Linked DNA regions of Homo sapiens: region 1 is linked to region 2. Evidence: fine-mapped expression QTL. Tissue or cell type: coronary artery. Region 2 holds a variant in brackets; the other region holds the start of a gene. All regions are shown on one strand. Distances are between the middles of the regions.

The links. PIP is the estimated chance that this variant, and not a neighbour inherited with it, causes the effect.
Region 1: it holds the start of ALG11, and the variant in region 2 is fine-mapped to the expression of ALG11 in coronary artery (GTEx, PIP 0.91).

Annotation. Positions count from the first base shown.
Region 1 is chr13:52,009,050-52,017,230 of GRCh38, forward strand. It overlaps ALG11 (ALG11 alpha-1,2-mannosyltransferase), which reads left to right and starts at 3,349. Exons shown (of 4, transcript NM_001004127.3): 1 at 3,349-3,413. The coding sequence starts at 3,370. It overlaps ATP7B (ATPase copper transporting beta), which reads right to left and starts at 2,401. Exons shown (of 21, transcript NM_000053.4): 1 at 2,238-2,401. The coding sequence starts at 2,288. RefSeq lists silencers at 2,608-2,947, 2,998-3,107, 3,118-3,217 and enhancers at 3,338-3,467, 3,518-3,607.
Region 2 is chr13:51,968,851-51,977,031 of GRCh38, forward strand. ATP7B (ATPase copper transporting beta) reads right to left here. Exons shown (of 21, transcript NM_000053.4): 2 at 5,085-6,318; 3 at 1,642-1,899. Among named protein-coding and RNA genes, the nearest start is that of ATP7B, 39 kb to the right of the region's middle. The variant C/CTCAAT (reference allele first, on the strand shown) is at 3,561.

The DNA of each region.
Region 1 (8,181 bases), 40 kb after region 2:
TTTTTTTTGTATAAACGATGTCTTGATATGCTGCCAGGCTGGTCTTGAACTCCTGGACCCAAACTGCTTTATTTTCTTCATAGTACTTACTAGTACCTGAAATAAAGCTATTGAAGGAAACTAAAACATTTCACCTCAAAACAGACTTATTGGAAATATTTTGAGATGGCCGTTCAGAGGGCCTACAGACAAAAGTAGTCCTACTGTGAGGGAGATGAGCATCTGTTGAGAACCTCCATTGACGCAGCCAGTTTTTCTCAGAGGGCCCTTCCTTGTCTGGATCTGGGTGAGATTAGCTGAATTTGGCACCTTCAAGGTCTGAAACATTTCTTCTCCCTGAGGGCTGCTACCTGTGAGGTTTCATCTACATAAGACCACCTTTGCTAGCCAGGTCTCCTCTTCTCTCCCTCCTATAACCTGATTTACAACCATAACCTGTTTTTGGCCAAGCTTAGAGCCCCCACACTTTCTGTAACCTCAGGATAGTATAATTGTGGCAACCACCTTGCCTTCCTTTGAGATCTTATGTTGTAAGACTCTCACGGCACGTTAGTAAATGTGTATGCCTTCTCTCCTATTAATCTGCCATTTGTCAGTTGATTTTTCAGTGACGCTTCACGGGGCACAAAAGTTTTCCCTTAACTCCTACGCTATACATTTGTTTATCCCTTTTTTTTTCCTATCTCCAACTAGGATGTAAATTCATGAGGGCAAGGTCTCGGTCCTACCTAAATCCCCAGTGTCTAAAACTTTGAGTACTATGTGTTTGAGCACATAGTACACACAAAAAAATTTGTTGAATAAATGTTGATAACAAGATATAATACCTACATCAAAGGGTTTTTGTGAGGATTAAACGCGAGAGTGCACATAGAGGGATATGAGTGCCTAACACAATGCCCAGCACACAGTAAGCTCAATAACGCTGGTCAACGCTATTATCAGAGGATTCCAGAAGACAGGTCAACATGGGCAGGAGCAGTTACAGAACGTTTCAAGGAGGTGGCAGGTCTTGAGCTTGATTTGGAAGGATAATGATTTCTTTCTCTAGGTGGGGACACTGTAGGAAGTTGAAATCTCCTCTGTACAAGCCACCCCTCCCAACATTTCTTCATACTCCTATCAAATGCATAGTCATCATACCCTACAAACCACCTACTAACCAGCCTCTCTCTGTCTGTCCACTAATCCGTTAGTTTTCATTTCTGTATCACCGGAGCCTAGATGAATTCACTACTAAAGGGCACCCAGCAACGTCAGTGAATTAGTTTCAGAAATCTGTGGAAAAGAAACAGCCTACTGTTCTGTCCAGCAATCCAGGCCTAAGTATCTATCCTAAAGAAATAGTGTCAGCATTAAAAATCATGTACAAAGATGTTCACTTGCAAGAGAGAGAGAAAAAAAGTAGCAAACAGAACGTCCACCACTAGGAAACCATGAATAAACTATGATGCGTCCAAACTGTGCAGAGGTTGCACTGAATTAGACAGTTAGTGAAACAATCTCTAAGATATATCGTTAAACTGAAAAAAGAGAATGCACATACAGTGATCTCATTTAGGTAAAACAAAAATTTTAACACCTCATACAAATGAAACCTAAAGATTTCTCTGAATGTGTGCATATTACATATAGATACATGTCTTGTTAACCACTGTATCAACTCAACACTGTGTGCCTGAAACATAGAAAGTTCTCAATAAATATTTGCCGAATGAAGACATATGTACGTGAATAGAAAAAGACTGAAAAATAGATCTGCTTTTTGTGCAAAATATTTCTGTGCTGTTTCCATTTTTAAAAGACTGTCTTAATGTATTACTTGTACAATTAAAATGAATTTAAAACAGTTATAAAAGTTCCAGGACCTCGATATACCATATCTGGTCCAAGCACCAGGCTCTGAGTAACTTCTCCAGGTAACTAACTTCATCGTTTTGAGCCATTAGGGCTCTAGCACAGCAACTCGACGCTCACTTTATCTCTCCAGCATCAGACCCCTTAAAAGCATAAAGATGAATTTTGAGGTGCGGGGTTTTCCATTGCTCCCAAACATCAGTTGACGGCACACTTTTTCTAAAGGGTCCTTTTCTCCCACGCCAAGACATCCCTGGAGCTGGGGTCTGGCTCGGCCTTCCCTGCGCACCCCCTGGGGGCGAGTAAGCGCCGAACGCGGGGAGGAAAATCCTCCTGGTGGGAGTGAGCACGCTGCGCGGACGCGGGGGAACAAAACTCACTTTCCGACTGGCCCCTTCTCTGGCTGTGATCTGTCTCTCCTGCTCAGGCATCGTCCCGCACGGACACCGAATTCTTCTCTGATCTGGCTCAGAGCAAAAGGTCACCTGGTCGGTGGAGGAGAGCGGGGTGTTAAAGTCCCGGGAGAGGAGGCGCAGAGTGTGAGGGCATCGGCGCGGCTCGGCTCTAAAGCAAACAGGGGTCCGGGAACCGCCCCTTCATTTGGGACCGGGGAAGCCGCAGCCCTCTTCACACGGATGATTCAAAGTTGCGCGCCGCCGTCCTCCCGACCTGGGGGCACGGGGATGAGAGCGTGAGGGGAGAGTGGGCCTCGGACCCTCGCCCACTCCCCAGGTGGCTGGGAGTGCCCACCCTGGAACTGCCGGCCCCGCCGGTGCCACAGTGTTCTCTGCCGTGCCAGTGCCACAATGTCCTCTGCCGTGCCGGCGCCGCAGGGCGGAGGCCTGTCCTCCTCCGCGGTCTCGGCCACCTCGCGCTGGTGCGCTCCGACACTGTACTGGGATCTCACGCGTGTGCGGGAGCGGGAGGGCAGGTGAGCTGCGCAGAGCCGGGCCGCAGACTCAGCTCCCAGGGCTCACCCACCGCCTGCGGGGAAGGTGCCCGGCGGCGCCGCGTCGGGTCCGCTCTGCGCTGCCCCCTCCTCGGACTCTGCGCCTGGCTGCCGGACGCCGTGGGTCCCAAAGGAAGCAACCGCGGCAAGAGTGAACTCCGCACCTGGAAAATCGATCCGCTGTGCGCAAAGGCCAGCCAATGGCCTCCAACGGGCGGCGGGCTTTGGGCCGGGAACGGGGGCGCAGGCGCCCAGGCGGGGGCTTCTAGTGGGGGAGGTGGCCGAGGGAGGGAGCGACGGCTGTCAATCACAGGCCACGCCCTCCTCAGCCCAACCCCCCACTGCTGTCCCGCCCACGGGGGCGGGAGCCGTGTGCGCCACGCCGAACACTAGTCTACGCCTCGGCATATTCTATTGGCTGGAAGGCCGTGGGAAGCGGCTACCAGTAACCAATAGTAACGCACAATTGGCCCGTGGGGGCGGGGCGAGCACGGCTTGCTTTCTCAGGAGCCAATAGGGAAAAGGAAAGTGAAGCGTTTCCTGAGTTCGGGGGTCGGCGGAAGATGGCGGCCGGCGAAAGGAGCTGGTGCCTGTGCAAGTTGTTGAGGTGAGCAGCCGGTCGTGTGGGCTCACAGACGTTTTCTCTTCTGTAGGGGTACTTGCCCGTCCAGTGTAGCTAAATTTTGCGGGCAAATGGCCTTCCTTGTCATGAATCTAAGGTAATTTCTCAGGCCAATGAGCAGTCTTTCTTTTTCTTGGGGGTCTTCTATATAGACTGGAATAGACTAGGTCTTAAAGACTCAATTTACCGCGTTTTCTTCTGCTTCACTGTTGGCCGAGGGGTCGAGTTCCCTTCCCTGCTTCAGCTTTTTTTTTCCCTTTCACACTCCAGTTAGTCTGTCATAAATTATTCATATTCATTCCTTATTTTTCTTTACGATTGAGCCACGAGACATTTTCCAATCTATCATGTCTCTTTTCGGTAAAGAAGAAACCGGATCTTCCTTCTCATCTTAGTTTCTACTCTTAAACTCACCAAAACTGCCATTGTTAACACGTCACTTAAATATAAAGCTTATGTTGAATCCTCTGCTTTTTGATAATCTGTTACTTTAATTTTTATGATGTAAGAAGTTACATAAAATATTATTTTATTTGTATTACGTGTATATGCTGTTTCTTCTAGAAAAATTAGAAAATAGATAAGTAAAAGGAAAAAACCCCAGGAATGCTACCATCCGGAGATAGCCACTGTTAACATTTTGGTGAAAAAACTCCCAGGCTTTTTTCCACCTTTGTTGTTGTAGTACTACTGTATTTTAAATGCCTTGCCCTCCACTAATAAAACAGAAGGCCTAGTATATTCTACCTACCTAGTTTTTTTACCACCTACATATTTTTGTTCAGGCTGAAAATTTATAATTAACACCATAGCTTCCTGAATAGCAGTATATACCTAATTCTTTCAAAAGTTCAGGCATTTCTTCTTCGTTTTTGTCCACTCTACTTCAAATTCTGTAATCATTACTTTAAACATTTTGAATGAGAAAGTCTGTTATCAGAGCCTTTTGGTTCTTCCCTGTCATACGTAATATTCCTCAGTGCTTTACATTATAATGTTTAAATAAACTCACTAACCAGACTTAAAGGACAGGTTTAACTTTAGTTATTATGCAGCTTTTAAGTTAAATGTTTAATAGTTCAGTTTGAAAAGCTTGTCACATGAATTTTCCCACCTAAATTATTTGAAGGAATTGCCAGAAAAACCTTTACATTATATGGGTCAGCTGCATTTTAAATAAGCTTTTGAAAGAGTGTCCTGAGAAAGCAAACTGTCCTCTGTAGTGTTGCTTTTATGAATTCATATATTCCAAATGTTAAATAAATGATAAATCTTACCACTTTTGTCAGACTCTGTTCATCCTTTAAGGCAGTGGTTCTCAAATTGTGCTCCATGGACCATGCAGGTCCCAAGGCCCTTCAATGGATCCTCAACAAATCTGTTTTTATAATAACATTAATGTAATATTTGCCTATTTTACTATGTTGATAAGTGCAAAAGTGATAGCGGATAAAACTAAGTGATAGTGGATTTTAATTAACAGTGTGAAAAGGTCATTGATAGGGTTTCAGAGTCTGTATTGCAACTGACATTAAGAAACTGCATAACTTGTCAAATGTGGTCTAGCATCAGAGAAGAATATCTGTAACTAGCTGAAAAGTTAAATATATTTTAAACATAAGATCAATATATATTAAAATATACTCCCTTTTCCTACTACATGTCTAAGTTAGCCTGAATTTTCTTCATATACTTCAACAAAAACAACATATCACTAGATTGAATGCAGAAACAGAAAGGAGGAGCCACTATCTGGTTTCACGTTAAGCCAGACATTAAAAAGATTTGCAAAAAGTGTAAATCATTGGCACCCTTCTTGCTAAATTTCTTTTTTTGGTTTGGAAAAGATAGTTTTTTAATAAAAATATGTTAATGTGTTATGAAAGAATTTTTATTTTCAAATGAATTCATAAAAAGTTTAAAGTTCTTTAGTTTTCATTTCTAATATGCTAAATATTGGTAGATATAAGCAGTGTAAACCACTGGTTCTCAACCAGGGGTGATTTTTGCCCTTCGCAAGACATTTGGCATTTGGCAATATCTGGAGGGCTTTTTTTTTTTAATTTTTTTTTTAGAGATAAGAGTCTTGCTCTGTTGCCCAGGCTGGAGTGCAGTGGCATGATCATAGCTTACTACAGCCTTGAACTCCTGGGCTCAAGCAATCCTCCCACCTCAGCCTCCCAAAATGTTGGGATTACAGGCATGAGCCACCATGCCCAACTGATAATTTTGATTGGGAGGGTGCTACTGGCATCTAAGTGGGTCAAGACCAAAGATGCTACTAAATATAATACATAGGACAACCTCCGCAACAAATAATTATTTGGTCCAAAATGTCAGTAGTGTCAAGGATGAGAAACTCTGATGTAAACAAAAGCTCTATTGTATCCTCAGTAAAATTTTTAAGAGTATAAAGGTGTATAAAGAATATAAAGACCAAATTATTTTAGACCAATTATTTCAGCTTTGAAATAAAGTGCTCATGTGGGATTTCAAATAGAGTCAAATACCTCTTCAAGTACACAGTAGGAAATCCCACATGAGATTTGTTCACAATAGGAACAAATGAGGATTTGTTCACAATAGGAAATCCCACATGAGAACTTTATGTCAAAACTAAATATCAATAAAATATTTACTTCTGGCCAGGTGCAGCAGCTCATGCCTGTAATCTCAATGCTTTGGAAGGCCAAGGCAGGAGGATTACTTGAGGCCAAGAGTTTGAGACCAGCCTGGGCAACATAGCAAAACCCTATTTCTACAAAAAACATTTTTTTAATTAGCTGGGTGTGGTGGCATGCACCTGTAGTTCCAGCTTCTCAGGAGTCTGAGGCAGGAGGATCGCTTGAGCCAAGGAGTTTGGGGCTGCAGTGATTGCTATGATTGCACCACTGCACTTCAGCCTGGGTGACAGAGTGAGACCCTGTATCTAAAAAAAGCAAAATTTACTTTTCTGATGAATTTGTATGTTTTCATGTGGGCAGTGAAAACTATGTGATATGGTTTGGCCGTGACCCCACCCAAACCTCAAGTTGAATTTTATCTCCCAGAATGCCCACATGTTGTGGGAGGGATCCAGGGGGAGGTAATTGAATCATGGGGGCCAATCTTTCCCATGCTATTCTCGTGATAGTGAGTAAGTTCACGAGATCTGATGGGGTTTATCAGGGGTTTCTGCTTTTGCTTCTTTCTGATTTTTCTCTTGCTGCCACCATGTAAGAAGTGCCTTATGCCTCCCGCCATGATTCTGAGGCCTCATAGCCATGTGGAACTGTAAATCCAATTAAACCTATTTTTGTTCCCAGTTTCGAGTATGTCTTTATCAGCAGCGTGAAAATGAACTTGGTACCATAAATTAGTACCAGTAGAGTGGGGTGCTGCTGAAGAGATACCCAAAAATGTGGAAGCGACTTTGGAACTGGGCAACAGGCAGAGGCTGGAACAGTTTGGAGGGCTCAGAAGAAGCCAGGAAAATGTGGGAAAGTTTGGAACATCCTAGAGACTTGTTGAATGGCTTTGAACAAAATGCGGATAGTGATATGGACAACGAAATCCAGGCTGAGGTGGTCTCAGATGGAGATGAAGAACTTGTTGGGAACTGGAGAAAGGTGACTCCTCTTATGTTTTAGCAAAGGTACTAGAGGCATTTTGCCCCTGCCCTAGAGATTTGTGGAACTTTGAACTTGAAAGAGATGATTTAGGGTATCTGGTGTAAGAAATTTCTAAGCAGCAAAGAATTCAAGAAGTGACTTGGGTGCTCTTAAAAGCATTCCATTTTAAAAGCGGAACAGAGCATAAAAGTTCAGAAAATTTGCAGCCTGACAATGCAGTAGAAAAGAAAGACCCATTTTTTTAGGAGAAATTCAAGCTGGCTGCAGAAATTTTCAAAAGTAGCAAGGAGCCTAATGTTAATCCTGAAGACCATGGGGGAAAATGTCTCCAGGCAATGTCGGAGACCTTCATGGCAGCCTCTCTCATGGCAGGCCTGGAGGCCCAGGAGGAAAAAGTGGTTTTGTGGGCCAGGTGCAGGGGCCCTGTGCTGTGTGCAGCCTAGGGACTTGGTACCCTGTGTCCCAGCTGCTCCAGCCGTGGCTGAAAGGGGCCAATGCAGAGCTAGTGCTGTGGCTTCAGAGGGTGAAAGCCCCAAGCCATGGTAGCTTCACATGGTGTTGAGCCTGCGGGTGCACAGAAGTCAAGAATGGAAATTTGGGAACCTCTACCTAGATTGCAGAAGATGTATAGAAACGCCTGGATGCCCAGGCAAAAGTTTGCCACCGGGGCAGGGCCCTCATGGAGAACCTCTGCCAGGGCAGTGCAGAAGGGAAATGTGGGGTTGGAGCCCCCACACAGAGTCCCTACTGGGGCACTGCCTAGTGGAGCTGCGAGAAGAGGGCCACCGTCCTCCATACCCCAGAGTGGTAGATCCACTGACAGCTTGCACCGTGTGCCTGGAAAAACCTCAGACACTCAACGCCGGCCCATGAAAGCAGCCAGGAGGGAGGCTGTACCCTGCAAATCTACAGGGGCAGAGCTGCTCAAGACCATGGGAACCCACCTCTTGCTTAAGCATGACCTGGATGTGAGACCTGGAGTCAAAGGAGGTCATTTTGGAGCTTTAAAAATTTGACTGCCCCACTGGATTTTGGACTTGCATGGGCCCTGTAACCCCCTTGTTTTGGCCAATTTCTCCCATTTGGAACAGCTGTACTTACCCAATACCTGTACTCCCATTGTATCTGGGAAGTAACTAGCT
Region 2 (8,181 bases):
TTTTTCTTTTTTCTTTTTTTTTTTTTTTTGAGATGGAATCTCACTCTGTTGCCCAGGCTGGGTACAGTAGCATGATCTCGGCTCACTGCAACCTCTGCCTCCAGGGTTCAAGTGATTCTCCTGCCTCAGCCTCCTGAGTAGCTGGGGTTACAGGTGCGTGCCACCATGCCCAGCTAATTTTTGTATTTTTAGTAGAGATGGGGTTTCACCATGTTGGTCAAGCTGGTCTTGAACTCCTGACCTTGTGATCCGCTCGCCTTGGCCTCCCAAGGCATCATTTTTTTTTAAAAAAAAAAAGCTCCCCAGGTGATCCTAATGTACAGGGAAGTCTGACAACCACTATTCTAGAAGAACAATGCTTCTCAAACTTTAATGGACATATGAATCACCCGAGGACCTTGTTAAAATAGAGCTTCTGACTAGTCGGTCTAGGATGAGGTTTGAGAGTCTGCAGGTCCATCCAGCTCCCAGGTGATGCTCATGCTGCCTGCCCATGGACACATTCTCACTCAGGCTTTAGAAGACACCAATGAAATAAGGAATGTGGTCTGCAGTTATTGACTGCTGTTACCGGAAGGATATCCTTTTTTTTTTTTCTCCTTTTCTCCAGATACTTTCATACAAGGAAAAAATAAAGAATTTTCAAAAGTGGTTTTCCTTACTCTTTTATAGTTTCTAATGACTTTCAGGTATGAAAAAGAAATCCCACAATCTTGCTAACACTATTGTGTTAGTTTTACATGGGAAAAAAAGCCTCGTTCAAATAAATGAAAGGAAGGAAGTGCTTCAGAAAGGATGCCACATAGGATAAAAATGAGGATTCAAGTCAGGAACAGAAACATAGGCTATAGGAGATTATAGGCTAATTTTATGAGCAGTCAGACCATGGATAACAAGGGATCTCCTATTAACACCTCCATCTGCTAACAGTCACTCTAGAGCTGCAGGAAGCTATAATGCATAGTGAACAAGAGGCTGGAAAAACATGTCATCTGAATTCAGGGCTGATTCTAAGGGCCAGGGAGTTCAAGTAAAAAGACACATCACTGGGGTAAGAAAAGAGAAAGTGATTCTGGTGGCAAGGTAGAGTCATGGTTAAGAGATTTTCCAAACAAATAAATGGATCCGAATTTTATTGTACTTTCAGGTTTAAAAGTATTGGAAATGCATTCTGGAGGACAAAACTTTGACATTTCCACATATTTCTGTCCTGTTGTTCCTACAAACACTCTCTGGTTTACAGGAACAACAAGAAAGAATATTTGAAATTGGAACTTCTATACAAAATGCAGGTTATTTATTCATTTTATAGTAAGGGGTTGATGGGATGGGAGGGAACAAAATATGGAATAATACTAGTACAACCTAACTGAGAAGTCTATCCACAAAAGGTACTATGACCTTTAAACTGGATTTTCAATGGCTAACTTACTCAGAGATATATTTTATCTCAAACTAAATACTTCTTAAAGAACACAATGCCAGTTATACAAGGACATTAGACAAACATTTATGCTATATAATGAACTTGCTACCTGGTTATCAGGGCTACTGATAAACACAGTTGCTGGGTATTCTGAAGGGAGAATACGAGGTCTATACGCAGCATTCCTAAGTTCAACATGGGCGTTCATCTCTTACCAGCTTCTTTCTGCAGATTCCTTTCTATGTTAGACACACAGGATGCACAGGTCATGCCTTTGATCTGTAAGAAGCACTTCTGCGGTGCCACTGCTCTGGTTGATTGTGGGGACTTTGCCAAGATGTCCGGGGCATGGTTTGCAGGGAGCCTCCCAGTGTGGGGAGCCACTTCCTGCACAGATGTAGGTGTACCATCTGTAGTTTGCACCATGGAATTCCCAGCACTGTGGTTTCCAAGAGGGTTAGTAGAACAGCTTTCTAGGATAAAATGTCAGAAAATATTCAAATTAGAAGAGCAAATAATATGTTTTTCAGAACAAGAGGTTTCAGGGCTCTTGGTGAGGGTTCATTGTCCCGGCTCCCACCGAGCAGCCTCAGCCCCTGGGCTCCAGTAACTACCTTGTCCCTCAGCCATCCTGGAGGACAGAGCTCCCTGCTGTTGTTAATCTCTGGGGTTCTTCCCATTGCCTATTTGGATTTCCAGCTCTCTAATACCTTTGTAAATAGTTCTCTATATTAAATCCTTCCACTGAGCTACCCCGTAACTTCACCTTATCTTTCATTTCCTTCAGGAATACTTACTGCATGCGGGGTGCTATTGAGTCCAAGGAGAAACAAATCACGCTGGCCGCAAGGCTGTCCTCAAGGAGCTCCTAATCAATCAAGAAGGGCTCTTCAAATACAAACTGGCACACTAATGGTTTATTCCAAATTAAAGTTGCCAGGTAAAATACAGGACATCCAGTTAAATTTGATTCTCAGACAAACAACAAATAATTTTTACTATACATATGTCATGAATATTGAGCTGGACATGTTTATACTAAAAAACCATTCATTGTTTATGAAAAATTAAAATTTAAGTAGATGTCCTATATTTTTATTTGCTAAGTCTGATACCCTAAATACCTCTTCGGCTAAATAAAATTCTCATAATCCTGCCCAATTAAAAAAATCACTATTCTTTTCTTTCTAGGTTTATTTAATCAAATCCAATTATTCTGTAATATGTAAGTTCAGTGCTAATTTCTTTTTACCACTAATAACCTGATTGCACGGTTGAAAGACTTTAAACATCACACAAAAACAGGCAGATGTTTACCTTATACTATATTTCTTACCTATTGCGTACAGGATTTACTGTTCTATTGTGTTTTCCTTATTGATTTTTGTTTTAAAGAAACTCCTTCCTGAAACTTGATACAAAAGACAAAGCACAAAATGGGGCCAGGCCACTCCACATGAATGCCCACTCCCTTCAGCAGTAGGTGTGTGCTGTGGGCACAGAGGGGAGGCAGCAAAGACTCACAGCTGAGTGAACTTTTCAAGGACACAAACTTTATCTCAGTGACCACAGGAAATGATGTGGGAAACCAAAGTTCAGCCATCCCTGAGCACTGAGCTGCCAGTGGGCTTGCCCACGCCACTGAAAGCAGCTCTTCTTAGTGTTGGGCCCGCTGCTCCCTACAGTACCGAGCTCCAGCCAAAAGGCTGAGGAAGCCAGCCATGTCCTGGTCCAGTCCACAGAGACACGCACGGGCAGGGCCCATGTCTGGGACCTAATCGGTTACAACACACCACCCACACAGCTGCCCCTCACAACATGTGCCCCTTCCCTCCTTATCTTCAGCATTTCTCTCAACCATCTCCACTCACCTATCATCCTCTTTATCCCTAATCTAAGCTACTAGTGGTCTCCACCCTTACCAGCAGCCAAGCTGGGCTCCCACCTTCCCAGGGTCCTGAAGCAGCTGCCGAGGCCTCCAATGGCCTCCCCTAGTTAACCCGCGAAGATACGATTCAGACCTTGGCCTCTGCGGCTCGCATTATGTCCAGGGTGACTAGGAGACCCCTCCTCCTCCCTCTAATTCTTTCCCATCTCACAATCACTCTTTCTAGGTCTCTGTCATCTTCCCACA[C/CTCAAT]TCTGCATTTCCGGCCCCACACTCTCCCTCAAAATTCAAGGCCCTTCTATCCCACTGTCCTCCAGCATCTCAGCTAAAGGCTCATCCCAGTTACCCCTTTCCTCCATGGCCCTCCCCATCACACACCCCTCTTGGTGACCCCAAGCTTGGTGGAGCTGCCCTCCTGAATGTCTTTCAAACCCACCTCTTTCTCACCCGGCCTCCTACGTGGTCTCATTGCCTCCATGGACACTGTACTGTGACACCACACCAGTCTTCTAAAATATAATCTGACTTCGTGCTTCCTCTGATTAAAACCCATGATGGTGGCTGAGCATAGTGGCTCACGCCTGCAATCCCAGCACTTTGGGAGGCTGAGGCGGGAGGATTGCTAGAGGCCAAGAGTTCAAGACCAGCCTGGGAAACACAGCAACACTCCGTCTCTACAAAAAAATAAAAATAAAAAATGAGCCCGGTGTGGTGGTGCACACCTGTAGTCCCAGCTACTCAGGAGGCTGAGGTGCGAGGATCACCTGAGCCCAAAGGTTCAAGGATGCAGTGACCTATGATCATGTCACTATCCTCCATCTTGGACAACAGGGCAAGACCGTGTCCCTAAAAAAATTAAAAAATTTTTTAATTAAAAAATATAAAAGCCTGGTGGCTCCCTCACCTTTACCTCTTCTCTTATATTCATCAAACAGGGAGAAAAAAATCATTTATAAATCCTTTCCTTAACTCTCATTTTTACCAGCATGGTCTCTAGGTGATGAGACTAAGGTTCTGTTGTTTAGCAGTAAAATCTTTTGAGAAGGTGATAATAGTTCTCTTGGTAAGAAAAGGGCCTGGATGGTCCCACAGTGCTCTATTTCAGGATACAGAATCAGAATTCTCTCCAGAAAAGAAGCCCAAATCCAAGGAGGTTCGCATTCAAGTCAGCCATGGTTTGACTGTGTCCCCCAAATTTCATGTGTTGGAAACATAATCCCCAATGTGGCAGTGTTAAAAGGTGAGGGCTTTAAGAAGTGACTGGATCATGAGGGTTCTACCCTCATGAATGGAATCCACTCATGGATTAATGGGTTATCACAGGTGTGGCATCGAGGCTTTCTAAAAAGAGGAAGAGCCACCTAAGCAACCACGTGAGCATGCTCAGCACCCCTGCCATGTGATGCCCTGTGGCACCGGAGTCCCCACTGGCAGAAGGCTCTCACCAGATGTGGCCCTCAACCTTAGACTTCTCAGTAACTATAAGAAACAAATTCCATATCTTTATAAATTACCCAAATTCAGCCATTCTGTTATAAGCAACACAAAACAGACTAATACAAAATCCCAACTACATGAAAAGCAAAATCTAGACACTTGGAGATTATATTTCCTCTATCTTAACAAATTTAACATGCAAGGAAAGTTTGCAGGATTTTGTTCCACTGTTGACATGGGAGGCAGGGAGCAGGGCTCACCTATACCACCATCCAGGAGCTATAAGACACAAAGAGAAAAGGAGACAAGCTCAGGACATGCCTCAAACACACTACGTACCAGAAACGACTGAAGCCTCAAATCCCATGTCTTCTATAGCAGCTCTGAGTTCTTCTGGGCTAATTACAGAGGGATTATAAAGAACTGTTGCAGTCCCTTCGGCCAAAGACACCGATATTTGCTGCACCCCTTCCAGTTGGGAGATCATGCCTTCAATGGAATGGACACAGGATGCACAGGTCATGCCGGCAATGGCAATCAGAGTGGTACTGCATGTGCCCTGGACCTGGTTTCTCGGTGGGGAGCCAGGGGAATGAGAACTGGAAGACCTGTGATCTGTCCCACTCCCTTCGGCTCCATCAGGAAGAGAAACTTTAAAATTCCCAGGTGGAAGTGCCTCGATAGCCCTCTGCAGAGCCACTGGGCTGGTACAAGAAGGGTCATACTTTACTTGGGCAGTTTTGTTCTCCAAGGACACTTGAATACTTTGAACCCCTAGGAGCTGGCCAATATTTTCTTCAATATTCAAGACGCAAGACTTACAATGCATTCCATCTATTCTCAGTTGGAGGGTGACCACATGGCTTCCTTGGTGCCCCAAGGTCTCAGAATTATTAAAATTCTGGTTAGCAGAAGATAAAGGTCTCTTTGGGTTAGTGCTTTGTAACCGCTCAATATCAATTGGTCCCAGGCTTAAGGGAGCCACTTTGCTCTTGATGGCAGCTTCAAATCCCATGTCATTTACATGGTCCCTGAGGTCTTCGGGCTGAATGAGATAAGGCTGATAAGTGATGACGGCCTCTTGGTTGCTGAGTGAGACTTTGACTCTCACTACTCCTTGCAGTTTCCGGACCTTGCCTTCAATGGAGCTGACACAGGACTGGCAGGTCATGCCCTCCACCCGGAGCTTGACCACAGCCTCCTGGGCAGGCAAGGACCTTGAGGGCCAGGAGGCTGCCTTTCCTTCTGCAATGCTGGCCTCGAAGCCCATGTCCCCAATTTGATGGCAAACCTGTTGCAGGCACACAACCGATGGCACATATTTCACAGTGGCACTGCCTTGTTCCAGGGAAACCTTCATGCTGATGATGCCTTTCAAATTGGAAATCCTGTCCTCAATGGACTTCACACATGACTGGCAAGTCATGCCCAAGATCCTGACTGTGCTGGTGGCCACCTGAGAAGAAGGGCCCAGGCCATCCAGACCACCTTCATAGCCAACATTGTCAAAAGCAAAACTCTTCTTCATTGCTGGTTCCCAGGCACGGGTAGGCAAAGAAAGCTTAGATAAGATCTAAAAAGAAAAGAAATAACATTTTTTAACCTTGAAACCAAATATTTTCTACAACATCCCAGCTTCTCTGGCACTGAGAAAATGGAAAACAATGCCACTGGTGTCAAAATATCCCAAGGGTAGAAGAACATAACATACACAGAAAGCAAGCTAAAGGCAGCATCTACAAAATGAAAGAGCTCTGACATTCTTCTCTGACAGAAGCTAACTGTCTGTCCTCCTTAGTGAAATGTCGTTCTCACACAACAGACGTGGAGGATTCTGAGGGAAAGAAGGAAAGCACGACACAGCTTTACATATGGAATGCAGCACGGCTGGCCTGCAGCAGAGGCAGAGGGCACAGCGGCTCACGGTGGGAAGGCACAGGTATCCCAAAAGAGGTCCCCACCTCTGGCTGATACCTCCCCACAGAACTTAGTCCTTTCAGCTCAAACTTTGGGGGTCCTGCTGAAATACAAACCCCAGAATAGTCAACACCTTACTTCTATATCTCTTTCTAGGGGTGTCTGTCTGATTATCTTAGCAGAGGTTAAATGTGCTTAACACCCTTCAGGTACACGCTCCAAATGCAGACTTCCCAGGACCATAGGGTCGGAATCCAAAGGTGGGCCACATGCCTGTGAAAAAGCTTTGGAGGTATGCTCCCTGGGCGAGGTTTAATGAGCACCTGTGGCTGAGCCGAGGGGCGGGAGGGGAAAGGCTGGAAGAACAGAAAGTTGAGTTTCACAAGGAATTTCATAGTTCTGCCTGTGACTCAGTGTCACCGCCCTCCTGGGTGTTCAGGAGAGCTGTAGTCATTACCTGAAATTTCAGGTACATCACTTAATTAAAGAACCTGTTTTCTTAACACAACACAGTACAAGTGTTATTCCCTGGTTTCTACACAGGATGATGTAGTCTCAGTCATTCTATTAACAAGCAAAATCTTCCTTTCACAGGCTCCCAGCCTACAGCTGTCTTAACTAGATATACTTTTTACACCAGAACTTCCATGTGCTTCAGAAATTTGGGAACAGGCCTTTATACATGATACATCATAAAAAAGCACATTTCTCTCTACTTGTACACAATCCTGCTTGTCTTCAGATGAATCTCCTTTACATGGAATGATCTTCTCCTTTTTCCTGTGCATAAAATGCAGACCTTGCCAACCGGCTTTTGAGCAGCTTAACAACACAAATGTTTAAATAACTTGTAAAATGCAGACTATATAAATGTTGATTTCTATATCCACAAAGGTTTGGGATTAATAATTACATAGAATTTTAAATATTCACTGTAGCATTTCCTAAGAGAAAAAAGGGAATAATTAAGTAATTTGGGGGACAGCAGTTCAAAAGATATTGCTGAATCCAGTAAATACATGAATGTTTAATGATGTTAAGGATGGTGATACATTCTGAGAAATGAGTCATCATTGTGACTTCATCGTTGTGTGACCATCATAGAGTCACTTACACACACCTAGCTGATGTAGCCTACCAAACACCTGAGCTGTATGGTGTAGCCTGTTGCTCCTAGGCCACACACCTGTACAGCATGTTACTGTACTGAATACTGTAGGCAATTGTAACACAATGGTAAGTACTTGTGTATCTAAACATATCTGAACATAGAAAAGGTACAGTAAAAACACAATATAAAAGATTAAAAAATGGTGCACCTGTATGGGGCACTTATCATGAATGGAGCTTGCAGGACTGGAAGTTGCTCTGGGTGAGTCGGTGAATGAGTGTTGAGTAGATGTGAAGACTTAGGACACTGCACTACTGTCGATTTTATAAACACTGTAAACTTAGGCTACACTAAATTTATAAAAAATAGTTTTATTTCTTCAACAATAAATCAACATAGCCAGACAGT